7 linked regions of the Homo sapiens genome follow. The protein of the gene in region 7 purifies or fractionates together with the protein of the main gene of each other region. This does not show direct contact. Each region holds a gene or a part of one and is shown on either strand. Other genes may lie near its edges. The genes, in order: NFKBIE, AP1B1, AP1S2, AP1G1, SLC27A2, ASPM and PPP6R2.

What was found.
Region 1: the proteins of PPP6R2 (region 7) and NFKBIE purify together in Homo sapiens (co-immunoprecipitation; 2 studies listed by IntAct, with this or other methods). This does not show direct contact.
Region 2: the proteins of PPP6R2 (region 7) and AP1B1 purify together in Homo sapiens (affinity purification with mass spectrometry; 2 studies listed by BioGRID and IntAct, with this or other methods). This does not show direct contact.
Region 3: the proteins of PPP6R2 (region 7) and AP1S2 purify together in Homo sapiens (affinity purification with mass spectrometry; 2 studies listed by BioGRID and IntAct, with this or other methods). This does not show direct contact.
Region 4: the proteins of PPP6R2 (region 7) and AP1G1 purify together in Homo sapiens (affinity purification with mass spectrometry; 2 studies listed by BioGRID and IntAct, with this or other methods). This does not show direct contact.
Region 5: the proteins of PPP6R2 (region 7) and SLC27A2 purify together in Homo sapiens (affinity purification with mass spectrometry; 2 studies listed by BioGRID and IntAct, with this or other methods). This does not show direct contact.
Region 6: the proteins of PPP6R2 (region 7) and ASPM purify together in Homo sapiens (affinity purification with mass spectrometry; 2 studies listed by BioGRID and IntAct, with this or other methods). This does not show direct contact.

What each region holds. Positions count from the first base shown.
Region 1 is NC_000006.12:44,260,109-44,262,551, forward strand, and holds part of NFKBIE (NF-kappa-B inhibitor epsilon), read right to left. Parts: intron 1,741-2,443; coding exon 1,518-1,740; intron 432-1,517; coding exon 343-431; intron 175-342; coding exon 1-174. UniProt on the Homo sapiens protein: Sequesters NF-kappa-B transcription factor complexes in the cytoplasm, thereby inhibiting their activity. Sequestered complexes include NFKB1-RELA (p50-p65) and NFKB1-REL (p50-c-Rel) complexes.
Region 2 is NC_000022.11:29,378,571-29,382,070, forward strand, and holds part of AP1B1 (AP-1 complex subunit beta-1), read right to left. Parts: intron 1-3,500. UniProt on the Homo sapiens protein: Subunit of clathrin-associated adaptor protein complex 1 that plays a role in protein sorting in the late-Golgi/trans-Golgi network (TGN) and/or endosomes.
Region 3 is NC_000023.11:15,844,814-15,848,313, forward strand, and holds part of AP1S2 (AP-1 complex subunit sigma-2), read right to left. Parts: intron 1,199-3,500; coding exon 1,090-1,198; intron 704-1,089; coding exon 566-703; intron 1-565. UniProt on the Homo sapiens protein: Subunit of clathrin-associated adaptor protein complex 1 that plays a role in protein sorting in the late-Golgi/trans-Golgi network (TGN) and/or endosomes.
Region 4 is NC_000016.10:71,728,835-71,732,334, forward strand, and holds the end of AP1G1 (AP-1 complex subunit gamma-1), read right to left. Parts: 3' UTR 166-3,500; downstream 1-165. UniProt on the Homo sapiens protein: Subunit of clathrin-associated adaptor protein complex 1 that plays a role in protein sorting in the late-Golgi/trans-Golgi network (TGN) and/or endosomes.
Region 5 is NC_000015.10:50,199,196-50,202,695, reverse strand, and holds part of SLC27A2 (long-chain fatty acid transport protein 2), read right to left. Parts: intron 210-3,500; coding exon 51-209; intron 1-50. UniProt on the Homo sapiens protein: Mediates the import of long-chain fatty acids (LCFA) into the cell by facilitating their transport across cell membranes, playing an important role in hepatic fatty acid uptake.
Region 6 is NC_000001.11:197,136,670-197,140,169, forward strand, and holds part of ASPM (abnormal spindle-like microcephaly-associated protein), read right to left. Parts: intron 3,203-3,500; coding exon 3,098-3,202; intron 2,639-3,097; exon of another isoform or gene 1,879-2,638; intron 1-1,878. UniProt on the Homo sapiens protein: Involved in mitotic spindle regulation and coordination of mitotic processes.
Region 7 is NC_000022.11:50,416,327-50,419,826, reverse strand, and holds part of PPP6R2 (serine/threonine-protein phosphatase 6 regulatory subunit 2), read right to left. Parts: intron 961-3,500; coding exon 848-960; exon of another isoform or gene 838-847; intron 482-837; coding exon of another isoform or gene 479-481; coding exon 365-478; intron 1-364. UniProt on the Homo sapiens protein: Regulatory subunit of protein phosphatase 6 (PP6). May function as a scaffolding PP6 subunit. Involved in the PP6-mediated dephosphorylation of NFKBIE opposing its degradation in response to TNF-alpha.

The sequences.
Region 1 (2,443 bases), on a different chromosome or scaffold from region 7:
GCACAGAGTGGATGAGATGCCCATGAGACCCCGGCCAGCTGCCAGGTGCAGGGGTGTGCACCCGTTCAGCATGCGGGCATCTACCTGGGCACCAGCCTGGAGCAGGAACTGTACCAGGCCCCGCTCTTGGGTTTCCACAGCCAGGTGCAGCGCTGTCTTACCACTGGTGCCCTCCTGGGGAGGAATAAGGATGTCAGCCAAGGCCCTCAGAGGCAGTGTGCTGGGCCTGGGCTCTGGATAAGGAAGTGAATGCCACCACTTCTGACTGCTGGGCAGGGGACTTGGGGATGTGTCAGGTGGGGGCAGGCCCTGGGCCGGGCAGTGCTTTGCTGGCTGTCTCACCTGCACATCAATGTCAGCTCCATTCCGAAGCAGCAATTCCATGAGTGGTTGGTTCTTCTGAAGGGTGGCAATGTGGAGACAAGCCAGACCTGGGATGGGGTGAGAGTGAGGGTGAGGGCTGCTGATCTGCATCCACCAACTCCCTCTCTTCTGGGACCTCCCTACCACTCAGCCCCAAGGGACTCACAGCCCACTCAATGTCTCTAATCACAAGACTGTTAAAATGCAAACCCCAAAACCCCCTCAAAAGTCTAAGGGGAAAGGAACTCAAAGTTTCCACCTTTTCAGAGTCATGTTATTGAAACTTTCATGCTTCAGGGGTCAGGCTGCTGAGTGACACCCCCAAAGAACACCCTCCTCCTATACACAAACTACAACACACACACACACACACACACACACACATACAGACACACACACACACACACACACACACACACAACCTGCCTTCAAGCCCAGTCTGAAAGCCACCTTTTCTGAAAAGCCACCTAAGATCCTCATGCCCCCAGCCCTTTCTCAGGGGCCGCTTCCTTCTGTGCTCCCCTGGCCTTTTTGCTCTCCTTTCTAGTCTGGACACTCCCGACCCTTGCTTAGTAATAGAGATTTCGATTCAAATTTACATTCTTCACCTTCCTCAGGGCGCTATTCAGATGTCACTGGCTCCATGAGGCCTTCCCGGACCACCCTATTTAACAATCATATCAACTCTCCTACTCCCCACATTCCTTCCTCTCACTCTGCTCTGCTTTTTACTACAGCACTTACTTCCTTTTAACATATTACATAGTTCACTTCTTACATTTATTGCTCATCTCAATCTTTCTCTATTTTGCACACAGATGCAAGTGTAGCTCCTAGGATAACGTCTGGCACATAGAAAACCCTCAGTACATTTCTGTTGAATGAATGAATCAGGTCATCTAATCTCTATTAAACTAAGTATCTTAAGGGCAAGATTTAGTTTTCTTCTCAGCAGGCAGTAGGTACTGGTTAAATTCGAAATCAAATCATCCATTCATTCATTTGGCAAAGATGTACTGAATATCTATGTGCTTACAGTGGGAGGGGCACCAATGGACAAGCTGGGACCCTCCCTTCCCCAAGAGTGAGGTCCCTATCTCCTATGCCCTCCTCATCCCACAGGCCCTAAGGGCAGTCTTAAAGACTGTCCACACCTTGCCAGTTTTGCAGCTGGAGGTCCAGAGAGTGAGATGTTCCTCTGCCTGGCTCTGGCCGCCCTTCCAGCAGGCAGCGGGCACAGGCCAAGTGCTGGCGCTGGCAGGCCACATGAAGGGCTGTGTCACCATGCCGGTCCTGTAGTGCCCGGCTGGCCCCCTTCAGCACCAGTGCCCGAACTGCGCCCGGTTGGTCCAGATGTACAGCCAGATGGAGTGCTGTCTGGAGGCACAAATAGAGGGTCATGGGGCCACTGCAGCATGCTCCCACCTCTGGGAACATGCTTGGGCTCAAGAATCACCAGCTGCCAGCATCTTCTTTGAAAGCAGCTTATAAAGGCCATAACCTGTTCTTCCAAGGAAATACTACCGAGCCCTTCCCCTGTCACACCCCTCCCCCACCAAGCTCTTGGGATCCCAATTCTGGAAGCAAGGTGAAGAAAGTAGCTCTCTGCTTTTCTTGTAAGTCACCTTAGGCCCTGGAGAAAGGACATGTAGGAGGAGAGTCTAGCCCCTCACCCTGTGAGGAGACCTCTGTTACCCCCAGGGGTTAGGCTGCAGGAGGAAAGATAGAGGCACCGGGCAGTCTCTCCCTGGCAAAACTCTCTGTTAGGCTCCATTCAGATGGCATCTCCTCTGTAAGCCTTCCCTGGCTGCTGCACACAGACACTGGACCCTATAGCAGCTGGTATGTGTCTCTATCACAACTCTTGTCACCAGGCTGTGTATTTAGCTGTTGATACAAGTCCCCCAGCCCAGGATGCAAGCACCTCAGGACAGAGGCCATGTCTTACTTGGGTCTGTCTCCTCAGTTTCTAGCTCAGTGTCTGGCATATGGTTTCCTAAGTGAGCAGCCTTTGGACTGGTATGGCTGCTGGGAATGGCTGCCAGGGCACAAACAGGTATCTGGGCATAACATTCTCTCG
Region 2 (3,500 bases), about 21 Mb from region 7:
AAAAAAAGGCCGGGCGCAGTGGCTCACGCCTGTAATCCCAGCACTTTGGGAGGCCGAGGCGGGCGGATCATGAGGTCAGGAAATCGAGACCATCCTGGCTAACACGGTGAAACCCCATCTCTACTAAAAATACAAAAAATTAGCTGGGCCTGGTGGCGGGTGCCTGTAGTCCCAGCTACTCGGGAGGCTGAGGCAGGAGAATGGTGTGAACTCAGGAGGCGGAGCTTGCAGTGAGCTGAGATCGTGTCACTGCACTCCAGCCTGGGCAACAGAGCAAGACTCCGTCCCACAAAAAAAAAAAAAAAAAAAAGTCAGTTTCCTGAGGCCCACTAGCAATTAAAGACTTCAGAATGAAAAGGAACTAAAGGCAGACAAATGTCACATGCAAACGTTCTTATATTGGCTTTGAGTCTCTAGAACTCCATTCTAGAATCAGGTACCAGTTCTGAACTGATCTATAAGCCGTAATGTGCGGAAAGATCTGCTGTGAAGAAAAAAAAGTGATGGGCGCAGTGGCTCATGCCTGTAATCCCAGCACTTTAGGAGACCGAGGTGGGCAGATCACTTGAGGTGAGGAGTTCGAGACCAGCTTGGCCAACATGGCGAAACCTATCTCTACTAAAAATACAAAAATTAGCTGGACATGGTGGCTCGCACCTATAGTCCCAACTACTCAGGAGTCTCAGGCAGGAGAATTGCTTGAACCTGAAATCGCACCACTGCACTCTGGCCTGGGTGACAGAGCAAGACTCCATCTCAAAAAAAGAAAAAGTTCCTCTGGACTTGAAAATAAAGTAAGTAAGGCTTCTTCTGAACAATACTTAAATTAATCGAGATGAGGAGAAAGAGGCCAGAGACTACAGAACAACGCTCTTTGTGATCTCGGTTTTCCCATCTATGTAATGGGAACACTTTCTGAAGATCTGTCAAATTAACAGTGTAGAGCACCATCCGCTCCATGCCTGGAACTGTGCCCCACACGGAAGCATGCACACAGTAAACAAAGGACAGTCTTTTCTCACTGAGCTCTTACAGATTTAGAGGCCAGGTAAAGGACTGCAGGGGAACGGCAGAGTGATCATGCCTCCAGAGGAGGAGGGTTCTGAGATAGGTGGAGCAGCAAGGGAAGTTCTCTTAGATGAAGAGGGGCTTGGCTGACGCAAAAAGACAGGTCAGATTTAGAGAGGCAAGAGTGGAGGTGGCAAAGAGATGCACCACGAAATTGCCAATGTGACAACGGAGGGAACTGACAACAATTAAATCAACACTAGCTGGGGAACGGCTTCTTGCTAAGTGATTTACAACCCTTCTCATTTAATTCTCAGGGTAATTCAGTTAAAAAACAAGGAATTAGAGACACTGAGAGATGAGTGATTTACCTAAGGCCAAAACAAGAAGTCTGTGAGCCCCGCTGCCTGGCTGAAGGAAAGGACCTGGAAGGGAAAGGAGCAGACGAGGCTAGGGAAGGAAGAATGAGATTCAGAAATGGTTCTGGATGCCAGGTGTGTTGGGTCCTGCCAGGAGAAGACACAATGGTCATGTCAAATGACAAGTCTCATGCTGATAAGCATTTGACACTACTGATCACTCCCTCCTTCCTGAAAACCTGTCTTCCCTCAAATGCTAGGATGCCATGCTCTCTGCCTGCCCTCCTACGCCACTGTCTGCGCCTTCTCAGTCTCCTTTGCTTGTTCCTCTCCTTCTCCTTCAACACTGTGTGCCCCAGGGCTCAGGCCTGGTACCTCTTCTCTTCCCCATCTATGCTATTTTGCCTCTTTGGTGGATCATCCGGTATCACAGCTTTACATACCATCCACATAGCCCAACCTCTCCCCAGAACCCCCGGGCACACATGTCCAAACTGTGTAACTGACATCTCCACATTACTGTGGAGATGACTAGCAGGCAGCTCAAACAATGGGATAAAAACTGACCTCCTGCTTCCTTCCTTTCCCCAACTGGCTCACCCTGCAGTCTACATCATCTAGTTCCTGCCAGCACCATCTTTAAGAGGGCCTCAGGCTAAAAACCTGAGTCACTCTTAACAACATACTCTCCTTTAAATCTATCGGCAAATCCTATTGGATTCCGACCTTCAAAATGAATCTAGAATCCATGAGCAGCTTCTCACTAGCTCCATCACTAACCCCAGCTCCAAGCCAGCATCACCTTCCATTTAGAGTGCTAACAAAGCTGCTCCCACACTGCTTTGCTGACACCCCATCTCAGCAACAGCCAGGATGATCCTCTTACAGTCCAAATCAGACAGTAGCACCCCTCTGCTCAACGTCTTCCAACGGTTCTCTGTCTTACTCATAGTAAAAGCCAAAGTCCCTACCATGGCCTCATAGCCCACAGGTCCTATAAGAGATGCATGCCCCTCCTCTCTCACGCATGCACCCTGCTGGCCATTACCCTTTGAACTCTTCTCCCCATCATTCCCTCAGCTCCAGCCGCACAGGCCTCTTTACTGATCCTCGAACACAACATGCATCCACCCCAGGGCCTTTGCCCGTGCTATTCACTTTGCTAGGAAGGCTCTTTCTCCAGACAGCCTCATGGCTCAGTCCCTCACCTCTTTAGGTCTTGGCTCAAATGTCATCTTCTCATTGAGGCCTTCTTTGACCATTTTATTTAAAATTGTATACCCCTCCCCCATAATCCCCACCACTTCCTAACCCTCTTTGCCCTTTTTCCCTTCAAAGTACTTATTACCTATTACCTACACACTATAAAATATACTTACGTTGTCTATTCTTTCTCCCCCTATAAATTCCCTAATGTAAATGGGGGTAAGGATTTTGTCCATTTTGTTCACTATCATATTCCTGACTCCTAGGCTGGTACCTGGCAAACAGGTGTTCAATAAGTAGCTGAATGACCAGTGCTCAACTCTCTTCTTGGGCAAATTTCATGTTTTGTAAACCAACCTCTGCTAGAGCAGCTTCTCCATGTTCCATTCACGGGGTTATCCAGGATCAGAGATACATCTGCTCTGATTGTCAAGCTATTCTAACTATACTGAAATTGAACATGCCAGACCCCTAGCACATTTACAGCCAATAAATGGAAGTTAAGTGAATAAATTATGAGAGAGAGAAGAAATGGCAAGGGTAGAAGATCAGGTGGCAACATCTCCAGTGGGAGAAACGTTCAGTGAGGCCAAGTCACTCTCACCTGCTCCCATAGGTATCAGCTCAGAGTGACAGAGCTGCAGAAGGTGGGGGGCTCTGGCACAGGATATAAGTACCAGGTCCTTGCCTCCAGGCCCACATGCCTTCTTTGTTCCTCTAACAGCCAACTCTTCACTATCTCTACCCTTGCTGATCCTTCTGCTTGGATTATCCTCTCCTAACTGCTCCAATTTATCCTTCAAATCTCAGCTTAGATGATCTCATTTCAAAGATAACTTCCCTTCAGCGTGATACCTCTGATGCTTAAAAAAAGAAACAAAAAAAAAATACCTTTCCTACATGTACTATCTTTTTTGTTGTTGTTGC
Region 3 (3,500 bases), on a different chromosome or scaffold from region 7:
AGCAAAGAGAAATGCAAATACTGTTTAGTTTTGCTAACAAAAAAAACCTGGAAGTTTCTACAAAAAGTATAATTAGAAAACACTATCATTTGCTTGGCTACTTTTGCATTTAATGGACATGAGGTAAAAATATGAGCCAATTTGGAATTAAAATGTCATAATCTCATAGTCAACTCCTGATTATCTACACTAATGAAAAAGGGGGTTATCTTAAACAATTTGAAGCAATAGATGGAGAGTTCTCAACTTACTGCTACTTTCAGCCAATCTTTTCCCTTCTTCAAATAGTCTGTCCTCTAAAGGTTTAGACTCCAGTGTTTTAGGGTCCAAAAAGGGCCATTGGGAAGAGGCCTGACCGATAGACCATCTCCAAACTGAACCATCCATCCATAGATAACTGAGTTGACGTGACTGACACATATTCCAGTCAATAAACTGCACATGGATGGACACTACATGACAAGCATGCTTCAGAGTACTTTCTGAAACTGTAAGAATGATGAATGAGACTTCCCCAGCAAGAGCAAAACATGCTAGTGCCTAGTGAAGAGAATAAGTAGCTTACCTCCTGCAGTAGATCAGCCTGCTCAATTGCTTTAAGGACATTTTTCTTGGATGTTTCCTGAACTTCCCCTCCCAAAAGAAACTCATCCAAAATAAAATAAGCCTTCTCAAAATTAAAGATGATATCTAGTTCACAGACCTGAAAAGGAAAAAAAAAAGAAAAAAGAAAAGAAAAAATTGTTAAAACTTGCAGAAGCAGAAGATGCTTATTCACTATCAGGTAGTGAATAAAATCGAACTAGAGTGAATCAATCTTAACTCTTTCTAAAAATGACTAAGTATCACTGGTTTAAGTAAGCTTAATTTCCAAATCTCAAGTACTTGAAAACATATTCCTACAAGCTAAATAAGACTGGGCTCTGCATGTTCCCAATATGGACAACTTAATAATTTCTACTAATAAATAGTCATTCCCACCCTCTCCCGCGGTTAGAATCCCCAAGACAACCAAAAAATAAACTTGTTAGAGAAAAGGTTCCAAAATATACTATGGCATTCAATTTCCTAAAATAAAATACTACTCACACTGCCGAAATACTTGTCAAGTAATTCCACATAACGATGAATTATTTCCAGGGTAATTAGTTCATTGTCCTGATCCTCAATAGCACAGCAAAAATACAGACTAGCATATCTGTAACAAAGTACAAATGTGAAAAAAACTGTTATCCTATAATGATGTTTTCTAAATATATTTTCATATCCTATTATGAAAAGCCCCAAGTTTATACAGTTTATTTCTTCTTTCACGACAGTACAGATTTTTCTCATAGACTACAAAAGTAATAAACGCATAACAGAAATTTTGAAAAGCATAGGCAAGTATAAAGAAAAAATCAAAATAATCATACCACTTAGAATAAGTGATTTTGCCCTTCTTCCTTTCAGGTTCTTTTCTATAAGCATTTTAAAACATAGCAGACCCAGGTTTTTCCTAAGTTTACTTAATTAAAACAAAATATATAGCAGATTAATTCAAACTGTAAGTACAGAGAAGAAAACAAACCTTCCAACTGAAGGAGGACTTGTTGAGGATAATGCCAAGGTGAGGTCAATATTTTGGGATATTTTATTGGAATATGTATAATATATACACAGAGAAGACCTTAAGTCCTACAAGCTCAATAAATTTTCAAAGTGAACTCAACTATATATCAGCACCCACATCAAGAAGCTGAACACTACTGAACCCTGAAACTCCTCTGCTACCCTCTCCCAGTCACAACCTCCCACCCCCAAGGGTAACTATGCTCTTGACTTCTAACAGAATAGAATTGTTTTTAAAAAGGTTTCTAGGATTGCAGAATAAACCATACGAAAAGAACAACAGCTCCACGTTATTACAGAAGTTAGAGAAAGAGAACAGAAAGTTCCTATCACTTAAGGGAAACAGAGGCCTGTTCTCAAATTTACCAAGTTCTACACTGTTGAACTGAAGTGTAGTTTATTTACCCTAGAAGAGGGAATAAGGTTGGGAAACTTATATTCTCCTTCAAATTAGGATTCTAGCATATGGAATCATGTTATGCTTGACCCAAGGAAGCAAAACTTCAACCCTGAGGCATAGCAAGTCCTTTGAGGAGGATTAAAAGGGCATTTTAAAATGGTTTACATGTACTTAAGGCTTTTGAAAAGAAAGAAAATAAAAACCTAAGATAGGCTAAACACAGAACATTTCAGTGGAGATTATAATTTTCACTGAAGATCACTTAAATGATTTTTAGAAAACACAATGGGCAGTTACTGCTCGTAGCATTAATGTAAAATAATACTGTATACAGAATAACACAACCTGTTTTGAGACTCAATGAATTCTTGCTCCTTAGTATGAAAATAACTAGTATTCACACAACAGCATTAATTTCATTATTAAAACCATTTCATCTTATTTGATGTTTTCAACAGCAAGTACTATCTTTCATCCTTGATCACAGATTAAAAAAAGACAAAAAAAAAATGAGGCTTAAGAGTACAGCGCCTACAAGTGCTAGTACTGGGATAAGAAACCTGATCTTTTGACCTTAACTCCAGGCCTTTTTCCACTGTATCATACAAACTCACTTGGCATATATATCATGAGTTTGTGCATGTCTACTCTACCTGACTTCCACACTCAGTAAGTTATTTAAAATGGTGGAGCTACTGCAGTCTTATTGAGAGGAGGTATTCACATGTGTTCATTTATCATCATTGTGAAGGGAATAAGTCATGGAAGACAAAACAGGGCATCAATGCCAACTTTAACAAAGTGCTCCCTCTCTTTCCCATCGTTACTGTTTTTGTTTGTCTATTTAAAAGAGAATAGAGTATTCCAACTCTCCATCCTCCCTAACCCATGCTCATTAAATAGAACTTTGAATTTGAGGAAACTGATAAATGACACATAAGATTCCCTGATTTAAGAAAACTAAACATTAAAGGGACTGACATAAAAATGGTAGATTAAAAACCAGATATGACTAGCTGATAGGAACAGAATGCTAAATAATTTATTATACAAAGTTTACTAACAGTTTCAAGTAAAATTCCTTTTATTTAAGATTTCCTCATGCTACTATTAAACAAGCTAATGCTCGTACCATCCTCGCTCCTTATCCACAGTACTGCCTCTTTACTTACAAATAAAAAGCACTTAAACACTAGTCAAAGGTCCTAAACTGCATGAATCACTTGGAAGCATTAATTTAAAAATCATCAGAAACAATGTGTCTAAGCCCCAGCCAGTAATGTTTACTTTCACTCGGAATGGAAAAAGAATAATCAAATTAATGAATTCTTTGGTGTAGGTGAACAGATAGCTATCAGGATAATAATGTACCTCTTTCCAGAAAGCTTAGGGCAGGAAAAAAACAGAAACATAATAATTAAGTACCATTCACTGAATCCTCGCCCTACATGAGACATTAAATGTTAGCTAAGGCTTTTGCATATTTTAC
Region 4 (3,500 bases), on a different chromosome or scaffold from region 7:
GCGTGAGCCACCGCGCCTGGCTACAAGTTTTTAAGTGATTCAAATTCCTCTCTTGGTGAGACTTATGTGTGAAAGGAATACTAACAGGTCAGTAAGTTAGCTCAACCTCTGGAATAAGAATTCATCTAAGTCTTCTAATCCAATTGTAAGAAGCAAGGAAGCAAATTTTAAATCATTGGGTATTGACTTTTTATTATTAGTCACTGTTCATAATTTGTTTCAACCAAAAGACAGTACACACAGCAGAATTCTAATGCATCCCATGTAAATGTTTACATCCATTTTATTCCTCACTCGCCTCTAAGACTTATCATTTAACTTTAAATTTTTTTTTTTACATCTCAAAAATATGTCTGCAATAATTAGAGCTTCATTAGCTGTCCCACTTGGAAACAGCTTTTTAATATTTTTACAGTAAAGAAGATGTGATGGGGCATAATGAAAATGTAACTTACAACACTAAGAAAGAAAAGGGCCTTTATAGGAACACAGTGGGAGTTCATAAAGGAAAGAGTTCAGAAGCTCTTTCCCATGGGGCCCCCAAATGGAAAACAAAAACAAAACACACAAAGCGCAACCGCAGGTTCTTTGAGGGAAGAAAAAAAAAAAAAAAAAAACCAACTCCAAGGCTCCATCTTGAAGCCAGAATCAGCCTCTTGGAAGTCTGTAAAGCAACTGTGCAAGCTGCTTCGGCATTTCCTTCTGTTAAAGTGTTCCAGGTCCTGGAACCCTGTCGATGGGACCCACTCACTGATATTGCTTGAAAAAGTTATTCACTTCCAGTTCTACAAGCAGCCCCACTCTCCCGAGCCAAAGCTGGTCAAAAGTGTTTTAAACTTCAGGACTTTCTGTGCAATTCTCTCTCCAATGATCCTACCCACTCCCAAAGTCATGAATACACAGACATGTAAAACCACTCTCCCAACTACAAAGTTCATGAACACCCACTTTTTCCTCTCTAGTTTTCTCAGTTTAGGACACTGTGGTTAAAATACATTCACTAGAAAAAAATAGACACATTCAAACTCCTTTCCCCTAGTTCTCATGGCCCAAATATTTTCCAATGCAGAAGATAATGAAGTTGAACCTTGAAAGCAGTACTCCCTAACTTCCAATTTCTACGACATAAAAAAAATGGGAAGCATGTTATATAAACCATTAGTGTTGGACAGTTTTAAAAGTCTATTTTCATATATGAATGGGACAAACAAGGAGTACAAATCACACCTTTAAACTAGCAAGAGGAAAGAATCCCCTCCCAAATGTTACACTGAGGAATGTTTCTTTAAATGATAAAGACCTTAAAATTAACAGATGATCACTATGCACAGCCTAAAACTTCCGTGACTGTCCAAACCACCTCAAGGTAACAGCACCAAAGCACTGTGGGAGAAGCTTCTCAGGGAGAGCACCCTTCCTACAGTTTTTTGAGATTACTTAGATGAATTAATTCTCCTTTAGGATTCCCCGGGATGGGGCAGAAACTAGAATAGAAACGACTCTTGAAGAGGGAAATAATGAAGTACAAGTGCATGTGAAATTGTCAAAGTAAGTGTGTGAGGGCTCACTGCTTATCACCCCAGGGTTATCAAAACAGCCTTGGAAAATGCTCTTTCCTCACAATGCCTGTGAAGTCGTAAATCCATCCAAATTTGCTCCCCCTTGAGTGGTTATACTCGGGAAAGGAATTATTGAAATGTGCAAGTATTCAAAGAAATTGAAACATTTCTCCATTTAGCTGCAAGGCCAAGTGAGAGGAAAACTAATTCTGATCCTAGAAACTAAGGCACGCTGAAGCTTTCAAAGATCCAATCATTTGAAACAGTCTTCACAACCATCAGTATCCTAGGCAGTTATTTGGCTGCTAGTCCTTCAGTATGGTGCTTGTGTTCTGATTCCAAAATCAATTCATATTCTACGCAGCACCCTTTGTGTTAAGGCCATGATATTTTACTCCTTCTAGACAAAGCTATGAATGATCATAAACTCTACCTCGAAACTATGATCACCCAAGGAAATGCTCTGTCAGCAGAGTAGACCCTTCCCAGCTCCATTAGCTGACAGTGTCTTATAGCATGGTCTTGAACAGATTTCTTCAGAGATTCAACCCAGTTCAAATAAAAAAACCTGAGCTGGTTAGCTACAAATATAAGAGAGAAAATAAAGCCTCTACACAAAGAGGAATGTTAAGACAAATTCTATTCAAGAAATCCACCAACATTATGTTAATCCTATCATGTTTCACAGCATTAAGTATCCATCCAATGAAATCAGTCTGCAAAGAAACCCTTAAAGGCTATTTTTCATTGCACAGGCAGAGCAGTTGTCTGAAATATGCACTAGTCCACACTTACATTACTGAAAACTATGCAGGAGATATTATCCTGTTCTTGACTCAGTCAACCATTTACCCAGTGGAGTAAGTTTTAGCAGATCTTGCTCATACACACTAGTAAGACCAGAAACTTTCCCGTGGAGCCTTTAGTTCAACTCCAGTTTGTCAAATGTTAGGAATATTCCAGCATCTGATACAGAGCTAGATTTGACAAGACACTGAAGATTTTAAGTAAAGGCTTGGTGAAATGAAGGGGAAAAAAAGGGATATTTGTTTCCAGGTTTAAGATTGAAGCCATAGTAGTCATTATACTGTATTCAATACAGTAACAATTGCAAACATTGTAAGAGCAAGGTGGGCCTCACTTTTTCTTTCTTCAGTATATAAGACATGGCGCCTGAATACTTGAACATACATAGTACATTCAATGTGTACCACAGAGAGAGTCACCTCTACTTCATTCCAGCAACTCAATTTCAAAGTTTGATAACATATGGGTCCTTTCTAAAAAGCACTTGGCACTCTCACTAGTTTAAAAAGCTCAAGTCTTTGATGTGAATATTCATGAGATTCGTCTTTTAAAAGAGACCAATTTCTCAGACTGAGGAAAGGCTATTCCTACCCTATGGTGTCCGTAAGACCTCCTCTGACATAGGGGTATGGAAGCTACAAGGCTTCACTCCAACACCATAAAGTACAATATGGAAAGATTTCTTTAACCGTGTGGTCTTTATTTCAGTGCCAGTGTTACAGATACAACACAAATGTTCCAGTTAGAAGGAATTCAAACGGAATGCCAAGGTCCAAGCCAGGCTCAAGAAATAAAAAGGGAGGTTTGGAGTAATAGATAAGATGACTCCAATACTCACTCTTCCTAAGGGCAAAGGTACTTTTGATACAGAGTCTGATCTTTGAAACTGGTGAACTCCTCTTCCACCCATTACCATAGTTCAAACAGGCAAGTTATGGGCTTAGGAGCACTTTAAAATTTGTGGTGGGAATAGGGTCATTAATAACTATGAATATATCTTTTAGAAGGTGACCATTTTGCACTTTAAAGGGAATCAATTTTGAAAATCATGGAGACTATTCATGACTACAGCTAAAGAATGGCGAGAAAGGGGAGCTGGAAGAGCCTTGGAAGTTTCTATTACAAATAGAGCAC
Region 5 (3,500 bases), on a different chromosome or scaffold from region 7:
GGAAAATGTAAATGTGCACTCGCCTCCAACATTTTGTAGAAAAAGCTTACCAGCCACAATACATCCGTGAATGCCAATCAGTAGTGCAGCACTGTGGTAAAAGGGCAGAGTGATATAGATGACATCATCTGCCTTCAATCCGCTTACAAAAGTGAGGCCAGTTCCATACCATATGCGCTGATGAGTGATCATGGCTGCTTTTGGAAGACCTTTGTAAATATACAAGAGAAGGCATGAGTTAACCAAGATTGGGCATTTACAGTGTAGGAGAGAGATCTGGCTTAGGAAGATTCATCACCCTGTATTTTGAGAATTGCACTGGGAAGGGCCATGACCAGTTAGTCCAGGAGTTGACAAATGTTTTCTATAAAGGACCAGGGAGTAAATGTTTTGGGATTGTGGGTCATACAATCTCTGTTGCAACAACTGAACTCTGCTATTGTAGTCAAAAGCAGCCATACACATACATAAATGGAGTGTGGCTGTGTTCCAATAAAACTTTATTTACAAAAACAGGTGGGAGGCTGTATTTGGCCCACAAGCCATAGATTGCTAACTCCTGAGTTAGATGGTTATGACAGTAGTAATCTGAAGAGAAACAGAAACAGAGGAATGACTGTCCATTGAATTTCTGCCCTGTGGCTACCACTTTGCAAGACATTTTAAAAATCCATAACAAGTTTATATATGACATAAACAGAATTATATTCTCCAATCCACAGATGTGAAGGCTGAGAGTCAGAGAGATTTCTTACGTACTAGAGTTATTTTATACAAACAAAGCAAATATGAACATTTGCTTATATGTTCTTGCCTTTTCCATTAAAAAATATGCACACTTGGCCAGGCGCGGTGGCTCACGCCTGTAATCCTAACACTTTGGGAGGCTGAGGCGGGCGGATCACAAGGTCAGGAGATCAAGACCATCCTGGCTAACATGGTGAAACCCCGTCTCTACTAAAAATACAAAAAATTAGCCGGGCGTGGTGGTGGGTGCCTATAGTCCTAGCTACTCAGGAGGCTGAGGTAGGAGAATGGCATGAACCTGGGAGGCAAAGGTTGCAGTGAGCCGAGATAGCGCCACTGCACTCCAGCCTGGGTGACAGAGCAAGACTCCATCTCAAAAAAAAAAAAGAAATATGCACACTCTTTTGCATGTTTTTTGTCTCTGCTGCTTAACAATGTTTACTGGAGATTTGTTCATGTTTGTACATAAAGATTTCCCTTATTTATTCATTTATTTATTCTCTTTCTCAGCTCCTTCAAGTCCTTTTATAAGTGTATTATAATTTATTTATACTATTTGCTGTTATAAATGATGCTGCAGTGAAGAAGCTCGTCCACGTGGCAATTCACACTATGAATGACACCATATCTTTTGGATAAATTCACTGAAGTGAGATTGTTGTGTCAAAAGATAAAAGTTGGCCAGTCCTGTAATCCCAGCAATTTGGGAGGCTGAGGCAGGAGGATCGCTTGAGCCCAGGAGTTCAGCACCAGTCTGGGCAACATAGTGAGACCCCTCCTCTACAAAAAGTAAAACAAATTAGCTGGGTGTGGCGGTATGCACCTGTAGTCCTAGCTACTTGGGTGGGATGATCGCCTGAGCCCAGGAGGTTGAGGCTACAGTGAGCCCTGATCCTGCCACTGTACTCCAGCCTGGGCAACAGAATGAGTTTCTGTCTCAAAAAAAGAGTAAGAGTCTTTGTAATTTTGATAGATAACTTCCACATTGCCAGTTATAAGGGCTGTCCCCATTCATTCTCCTATCAGCAATACATGAGTGTGCCTGTTTCCTCCTAGCCTTGTCAATGTGTGCTCTTAAATGTTGGGGCCTTTGCCAGTCTGAAAGGTGAAAAACCGTATCTCAGTGTAGTTTTAGTACATTAGACTAAATGCGCTTGCACTTTCTTAACCATAATTTATATACGTTTTTTGTAAGATTTTCTTCTGTAAGTGTATGCTTATGTTGTTTCCCATGGAAGAACAGTTCAATTGGGGAGGGCATGAAGTCACTGGGAAGGGGACTAAGAGTTTAAGATCTGAGTGGGTAAACAGACTTCGTGAAGAGGAAGACAGATCTCTGTTGACTCAGATTCTTCAATACTTGGTGGTACCTTCACCAGATAGTGCCCAAATAGCAGCAACTTGTTACAAGGCAGACAAATATGGCTAGCAACCTACCATTATTGTAAACACAATTCAAAATTCATTTTCTTTGACAATGGCCCAGTTTTTTGTTTTGTTTTATGTATTATTATTATTATTATTATTATTTTTGAGATAGGCTTTCACTCTGTTGCCAGGCTGGAGTGTAGTGGTGTTCAAGGCTCACCACAGCCTCAGGTCAAGTGATCCTCCTGTCTCAGCCCCCCAGGTATCTGGGACCACAGGTGTGCACCACCATGCCTGGCTGTTTATTTATATTTTTTGTAGAGACAAGGTCTTGCTTTATTGCCCAGACTGATGTTGAACTCTTGGCTTCAAGTGAGCCTCCCATCTTGGCCCCAAAGTGTTGAGATTATAGATATGAGCCATCATGCCTGGCCTCTGAAATTTTTAAAAAGAAATGCTCATCTTTGTTGCCTTGAAGTACTTTCAGAACTTTCCTAAATTAAGATTTTGTATTAATGAATAAATGAGAATATCTGGTAACTATTATATAATTTTGTGCTAATGACTTCCTTTGAGGAGCAGGAACATTTATTCTCCAACTGTTTAAACAAATTCTTTTAATTAATGTTTACAAGAGTAACTTAGCACTATTTTTTTTCTACAGACAGTGCCTTGCTCTGTCACCCAGCATGGGGTGTAGTGGCACGTCACTGTAGCCTCAGACTCCTGGGCTCAAGTGATCCTCCCACCTCAGTCTCCCAAGTAGCTAGGACTACAAGGTGTACCACTATGCCAGCTAATTTTTTAATGTTTTTGTAAAGATGTGGTCTCGCTATGTTGCCCAGCCTGGTCTCAAACTCCTGGGCTCAAGTAATCCTCCTGCCTTGGCCTCCCAAAGTTCTGAGATTGTAGATGTGAGCCACTGTGCTTGGCCTAGCAAATATTTGATTCAGAGAAAATGAAAAAAGTAAAATAAACACCCTTCTAATTGTCTTCCAATTAAATATAAATTCTGACTTACGAGATTAAATCAGAGGATGCTCATTCTCTTTTTTCTCCCTAAAAGGGGTTTTCTTTTTTTTTCTTTCTTTTTTTTTTTTTTTAAGACAGAGTCTCGCTCTGTCGCCCAGGCTGGAGTGCAGTGGCGCAATCTCGGCTCACTGCAAGCTCCGCCTCCCTGGTTCATGCATGCCATTCTCCTGCTTCAGCCTCCTGAGTAGCTGGGACTACAGGTGCCCGCTACCACACCTGGCTAATTTTTTGTACTTTTAGTAGAGATGGGGTTTCACCATGTTAGCCAGCATGGTCTTGATCTCCTGACCTCGTGATCTGCCTGCCTCGGCCTCCCAATAAAAGGGGTTTTCTATTTGACTGTGAAAACATGC
Region 6 (3,500 bases), on a different chromosome or scaffold from region 7:
GTCACTACAAAAAAAATCAACTAAAGATAAAAGAAGTTAACAACTGAGAAAATGACTGGCAAAAATCAGTAACTCTGACTTATTAAAACTCTCCATGCTACATAAATCTGGAAACTCTATTTCACATAAAACTGGAGCTGAAAGAGACAAATATTTACTTATAAAATTAAAAGTTATATGGGAAACAAACACTAATTTTTTTTAGAAAAAATATGAACAGAGTAAAAATATGCCTTATAGTTATCATATAATATCATGTTTTATAGCTCTGGGAAAATAGAAAATAAAATGTTCTGTTAGCATGAATCCTTCTGTGCCCTAAAAAAACCCTATGGATCATACTATTATTACCTAAAAAGTCTATTCTCAAATGCAGCAGAGTGATAATTTTTATAAGGTAGATATTATTTTTAGATATGGAATAATATTGGTGATTTCAATTTTAATAACATTGGATTAAGATGAAAGAATGAGAAGATAAAGGTCCCTCAGCAATATAACTCACAAACATGTTCAGAAGCAGTAAGAAGTCACATTAATTATTTTTTGAAAGTCAATAATCTACATTTTTAATTTATGCATATAGCATAGCTAATGTACTATTGCTGGGTCCATTTATTCAAGGAATAATTGCCGCTATGTGTCAGACATTGTTCTAGGCCTAGGAATGGACACTTAAGTGAACAAAGCAAAGATTCTGGTTCTTGTAGTTTCCATTAAAAGACCATTTAGTAAAATTTTTCTTCCCCCAAATTATAAAATCTGTAAGATGATTTAACAACATGTATAAAAGTCATCGTAGGCCGGGCATGGTGGCTCATACCAGGTGTAGTGACTCATAGCGCTCTGTCACTCATGCTGGAGTGCAGTGGCACAATCTCTGTTCACTGCACCTCTGCCTCCTGGGTATAAGCGACTCTCCCGCCTCAGCCTTTCGAGTAGCAGGGACTACAGGTGCACACCATCATGCCCAGCCAACTTCTGCATTATCAGTAGGGATGGGGTTTCACCATGCCAGCCGGGCAGGTCACAAACTCCTGACCTCAAGTGATCCGCCCACTTTGGCCTCCCAAAGTGCTGGGACCACAGGTGTAAGCCACTGCACCCAGCCTTATTTTTACAACTTTGATAACTTTAGCGTATACCCCAAATCTGTAAGACATAATATTATCATTCAAATGCAACTCATGGCTTCTCATTGTACTCTGATTTTCTCTAGCTTTTGAATTCTTTATTCTAATATCAGTTTTAAGTCTGACATAAAAGCATGAGAGTTCTAATCAAAATCCAATCTTTTATCATAATAAAAACTATCAAGAAATTATTAGAATTTAAAAAGGAAAATAGGCCTATTAATTAGATTTGTATAACATAATATTTTATGCCTATGAGTCCCCAACAAAGCCTCAAGCTTCTATTTAGATATAAAATGTAAAAGTCACTACTGGATCCACAAGCAGGACTATGGTAAAGAAATTTCTCCACCTAAACTGCTCCTTTAACATGATGTTACATGTTTATTTTTTCATTTTGGCAAATATTGATTGAATGTCATCTTCGTGTTAGTCTACATCCTAAGTGCCAGGATACAGAATCTGAAAAGATGGACACAGGACCTGTCTTCAGGGAGTTCACACCTTTTTATTTCTTGAGATGGAGTCCCGCCCTTGTCGCCCAGGCTGGAGTGCAATGGCAAGAACCTGGCTCGCTGCAACCTCCACCTCTGGGGCCCAAGTGACTCTCCCAGCCTCCCAAGCAGCTGGGACCACAGGTACCGGCCACCAAGCCCAGCCAACTCTTGTATTCCCAGCAGAGACAGGGCCTCATCATCCTGGTCAGGCTGGTCTTGAACTCCTGACCTCAGATGGTCCACCTGCCTCAGCCTCCCAAAGTGCTGGGATCACAGGCATGAGCCACCACGCCCCACTAGGAGTTCACACTTTAGTTAGGGAAAATATACAATAAGCAAGCCAATTTTTAAAATAAGAACTTCAATCAGATTTAAATGCTACAAATACAATCACAGGAAGCTGGGATGTGAATGATAGGGCTCTCAAACAGAAAATTAAGAGAAACGATTATTTCTTACGATGTTTGTCTTTCTTTGTATTGGTGCTCAGCTGAGTCTGCAGTGCCTCAGAAGCAGCCTTCATTTTATAAAAAATCTATTATTTCTCCTTCCAGTTGTTTTTTCTCTTCTTCGAGCTTCCTTATCTCCTCCTGTTGAATCATTTTAAGATGCTTGAACTTGTCCTGCAGCTCTTTTTCAGCTTCTTTCTCCTTGACTCGCTGCATAAATCTGTTTCAACTCTTCTTCTCTCTGACATTGATCATAGCACTCTTGTCTTTTGGCTTCAAAGATTTCTTGAAAACTAACTGGCTGGTTGTCTGGGCCCAGATCTGTAAAGCCCATTTTCTGCAGTTTTTGGTACCTACAGCATTCATAGTGCTGAGTGTAGGTTTTTCTTTTAGATTTTCCACATTGGTACAAAGAAGCATATCTTGGAGCTTAACGAAGTCACAGTGATTTTCATTTTCCACTTGGAAAACTCCCCAAGGCTAGTGACGGCCTCTGACCATCCTTTTACCAACTTTCACTTCATCCATACTCCCTACCACAGCAAAGGATAACAGCCCATGTTTTTGGCCGGGCGCGGTGGCTCACGCCTGAAATCCCAGCACCCTGGGAGGCGAGGGGAGGGATCACGAGGTCAGGAGATTGCCCGACCACCCCGGCCAACACGGTGAAACCCCGTCTCCACTAAAAATACAAAAAAATTAGCCGGGCATGGTCGTGGGTGCCCGCAGTCCAAATATCTGTCTTTTCTTTATGCTAGAAACATCAGTTATTCTCTTCTAGCTATTTTGAAATATACAATAATTACTATAGTGACCCTACTGATCTATTGAACATTTGGTCTTTATTTCTTTTATCAAACAGAAAGTTGACACAATATCCTGTCATTTTAATACACACTTTAACAATTCTTCCAGGCTGTTATTCAACAACAAAAATCAATTCATTTCCATGTGAAATGCAATTAATGCTTCATTCGATGTCATGTTTTCAGAGAGTTTAAGTATAATAAATACTTGCCTGTTTTTAATGGTTTTATGAAGGTCAAACTGGACTGTGCCACAGCGATAATGGGTTTTGTCCTTTTGTTTGTTTTAGAAATTGGAGTTCTGAATATTGATAAATCTAAAATAAATTAGAAAACAAAACTAAGAGCATTAAAATACAAATTCCCTAAATAGGTCAGTGATTTGAAAGTTAAAGTTTGGGTTCTTCACAATCATATTCATTTAGCAAACACTTAATAACCACTGTACTCCACGCACTAATGCTATGAATTCAGTGGTTTATCAAACCAACATCCAGAAGTCACAGACCATAAACCACAATTTATTTTGTGTTTACAGAGGCTAAAGTCTAGATTCAACCAAAACTTATTGTGTCTGTATATTCCAGACTCTCTACGAGGTGCTGAGAATATGCA
Region 7 (3,500 bases):
GCATCAGAGTGGAAACCCTGCGACACACACACAAACACACACGGGAGCTGTGGGGACTTGTCGGAACAGTCCTTGGGGAAAACCTGCCAACCACACCTGTTCCACGCACATCGACAAATGCATCGCCAACTGGTCGTGACGAGCAGCTTCAGGCTGGAGAGGGAGCACCAGTGATGATGAGGGTCTAAGGGGACTTGGCCACAGCCATAAAGTCAAGCCTTCAACAAGGGGAATCTATCCATGTTGTTACTTGCATAATCAAAAATTAAAACCACAAATGACATAATCCAGACTGCTCGTGTGGGCTGCCATATCACTGAGGCGTCAAGTTCAGCTCTACACGATTTCTCCTCGTGAGACTCACCCAACCCGCCTGGTTTCCAGCAAGGTGAGTAACACCTGAGTCCCACTGACGAGGCAGCTCTCCGTCCGGTCTCCATCAAACATGTTCTTCAGAAGCTGCTCCACACAGTCCTGCCTGCTGGACACACACAGAGGTCACTGCCTGGCAGAGCAGACACACACACAAAGGATGCAAGGATGCTCCTTCCTCCCCGTGGAGGACCCCAGCAAAACCCTCAACCTGCTCAGGCTCAAGGCAAGGCGCCAGGGTTCTCAGGACACTCCTGCTGCTGCTGGCCCACTCTCTAGACCCACCAGGTGACTCCTCTGGAGACCCCTCCCTCTGGAAACAGGCCCCAAGTTAACATGGGCTCTGAACCTGGGGTTCATTCGAATGTGAATCAGAGGAGGTGGCAACATATCCTGGTGCTCAGAGCAAGGCTCACAGACGTCCCCATGACCCAGAAAGGGAGGCCCACCAGCACCACGGCCCACCAGCACTCACGACTCCAGCGCTGTGAGGAGCGGGTCTGGCTCCAGAGCCTCTTGCAGCTGACTGCCCTGGTCTCTGCCCAGCCTAACTATGTCACAGAGAGTCTGAGAAGCATTTGACTGCCTCTGAAAAGACAAGGGAAACACAGAGTCCCTCAGTGTGGAGAAGAAACAGCAGGACCAGCCCTGCTGGGCACACAGGGCACAAGTCCTGCTGCTTCTCTGGCAGATGCTAGACTTTCGTTGTTGTTCAATACCACTGTGATGTTCAAATACTTTTTCTTTTTTTTTAAGATGTGGGACTTTTGGCCAGGCACAATGGCTCAGGCCTGTAATCCTAGCACTTTGGGAGGCCAAGGCAGGCAGATCATCAGGTCAGGAGATCAAGACCATCCTGGCTAACACGGTGAAACCCCATCTCTACTAAAAATACAAAAAATTAGCCGGGCGTGGTGGCGGGTGCCTGTAGTCCCAGCTACTCGGTTGGCTGAGGGCAGGAGAATGGCTTGAACCTGGGAGAAGGAGCTTGCAGTGAGCCAAGATCGCACCACTGCACTCCAGCCTGGGTGACAGAGCGAGACTCCATCTCAAAAAAAAAAAGAAAAAGATGTGGGACTTTCTCTAAACCAGTTTCCTACAAAGAAAGATTCCAGACAACAGCTTCATTTCAAAGAAGCCTGTGTCTGCCTTTTCTGTCGTCAAAATGTAGATCTGGTTAGAGTTTTCTTTTTTTTAAAGCTGCATTGAACTATCTTCAGGAATTCAAAACAGGGCTAATAATGGTCAGATATGCAATGCAGATACTGGGCTATACCTGTGATCCACGTTTTGAAATATGCTGAATATGTGGCCATGTTACTGATACTATATTTTAAATGTGGTAATAAGTAGCTGCTATTATTCAGAATGAGTCCTGTAAGCTAATGAAAATAGGGAAGTTGCTACCAAGAAAACAGAGGACTCATCTTTTCTAGGGAAACATTAACACGCAATCCGTGATGGGAACGTGCCCCTGCTGACAATGTAGGGCTGTTCTGTAGGTAAGACAAATGTGATTAAGAGAGAAACAACCCCTGACTCCCTGCAGCATTGGTTCACATGCTGTGGGAAGACTGAGGGAAAGCAAACACTCACAGGAGTATTTTAGGGAGAAAAGAAAGCAGCCAGATTAGCTCTCAGGTCTGCCTTTGGGACCCAGGCCAGGCCATCAGCCCACAACACCCACATGCATGGGTGGGCTCCAGTTCTCAGGCAGGGCGGCCTCCTTGCTTCCTACAGACGCCAACATCAGGCAGGGCGGCCTCCTTGTTTCCTACAGACGCCAACGTGGCCTCTCCTGTCTGTCTGATCAGCCCTGTGGGCTGATGGAGAACAAAGTAGGGTGGTTGGCCAGGCAGCGGTGAAGGCCTCAGACACGAGTCAGCACCACTGTTTTCCAATCTGCCAAGGACACGTGGTTGTATGTATAGATCGGTATGTGTAATGCTAGGAAAAGGCCTACTGGGATATACCCCAAACTCTCAACAGGGATCACCACAGGGAGCCCCATTGTCACCTTAGGTGCTTCCAGGGTGGGTGGCTCCTAGGGGGCCCCTAGCAATCCCGTCCTGGAGTTCATGCCTTTATAGCCCCCATCTCTTTTAGTGTGGGCTGGACCCAGCCACCCAGGTCTAAAGAGCCAAATACATTAAGAGTGAGGGGAAAGCTCAGCTCCACGTTGTGTGCTGCCCTGTGGAGACGCCCATGTGGTGCAATGCTGAGGGCGGCCTCGGCCCACAGCCCTGAGGAACTGGATGCTGCCAAGCCATCTGTGACCATGGAGCTGGCCTCTACCCCAGTGGAGCTCTGAGATGACTGTATTTTGTGAGACTCAACAGAAGAGCCACTAAGCCACATTCAGACGCCTGATCCACAGAAACTGATACTGCTACAGGTAAAAATACTTGCCATAAGCAACTACATTTCAGGGTAATTTGCTATTCGGTCACAGACGACTGATACAATTCTATTAGAATTGTTCTTTGGTTTGCTTGTTTGTTGAGACAGAATCTCACTGTCGCCCAGGCTGGAGCACAGTGGTGTGATCTCGGCTCACTGCAAGCTCCCCTTCCTGGGTTCAAGTGATTCTTGTGCCTCAGCTTCCTGAGTGGCTGGGATTACAGGCACCTGACACCACACTTCGCTAATTTTTAGTAGAGACAGGGTTTCGCCACGTTGGCCAGGCTGGTCTCAAAACTCCTGACCTCAAGTGATCGGCCCGCCTCAGCCTCCCCAAGTGCTGGGATTACAGGCATGAGCCACCGCGCCTGTCCTATTTTTATAATACACATAGATTATTTTTCAGTTAAGAAAAAAAAGTGTAGGCCAGGCATGGTGGCTCACTCCTGTAACCACAGCACTTTAGGAGGCTGAGGTAGGAGGATCACTTGAGGCCAGGTTTTTGAGACCAGCCTGAGCAATGTAGTGAGACCTCATCTCTATTTAAACAACAACAACAACAAGAAGAAAACAGCCTAGAGGCTGGGTGTGGTGGCTCACCCGACTGGGTGAGCAGGAGAATTGCTTGAACCCAAGAGGCGGAGGTTGTGGTGAGCCGAGATTGCACCACTGCACTCCAGCCCAGGCAACAAGAGCGAAACGCCATCTCAAAAAAAAAAAGAAAAAAA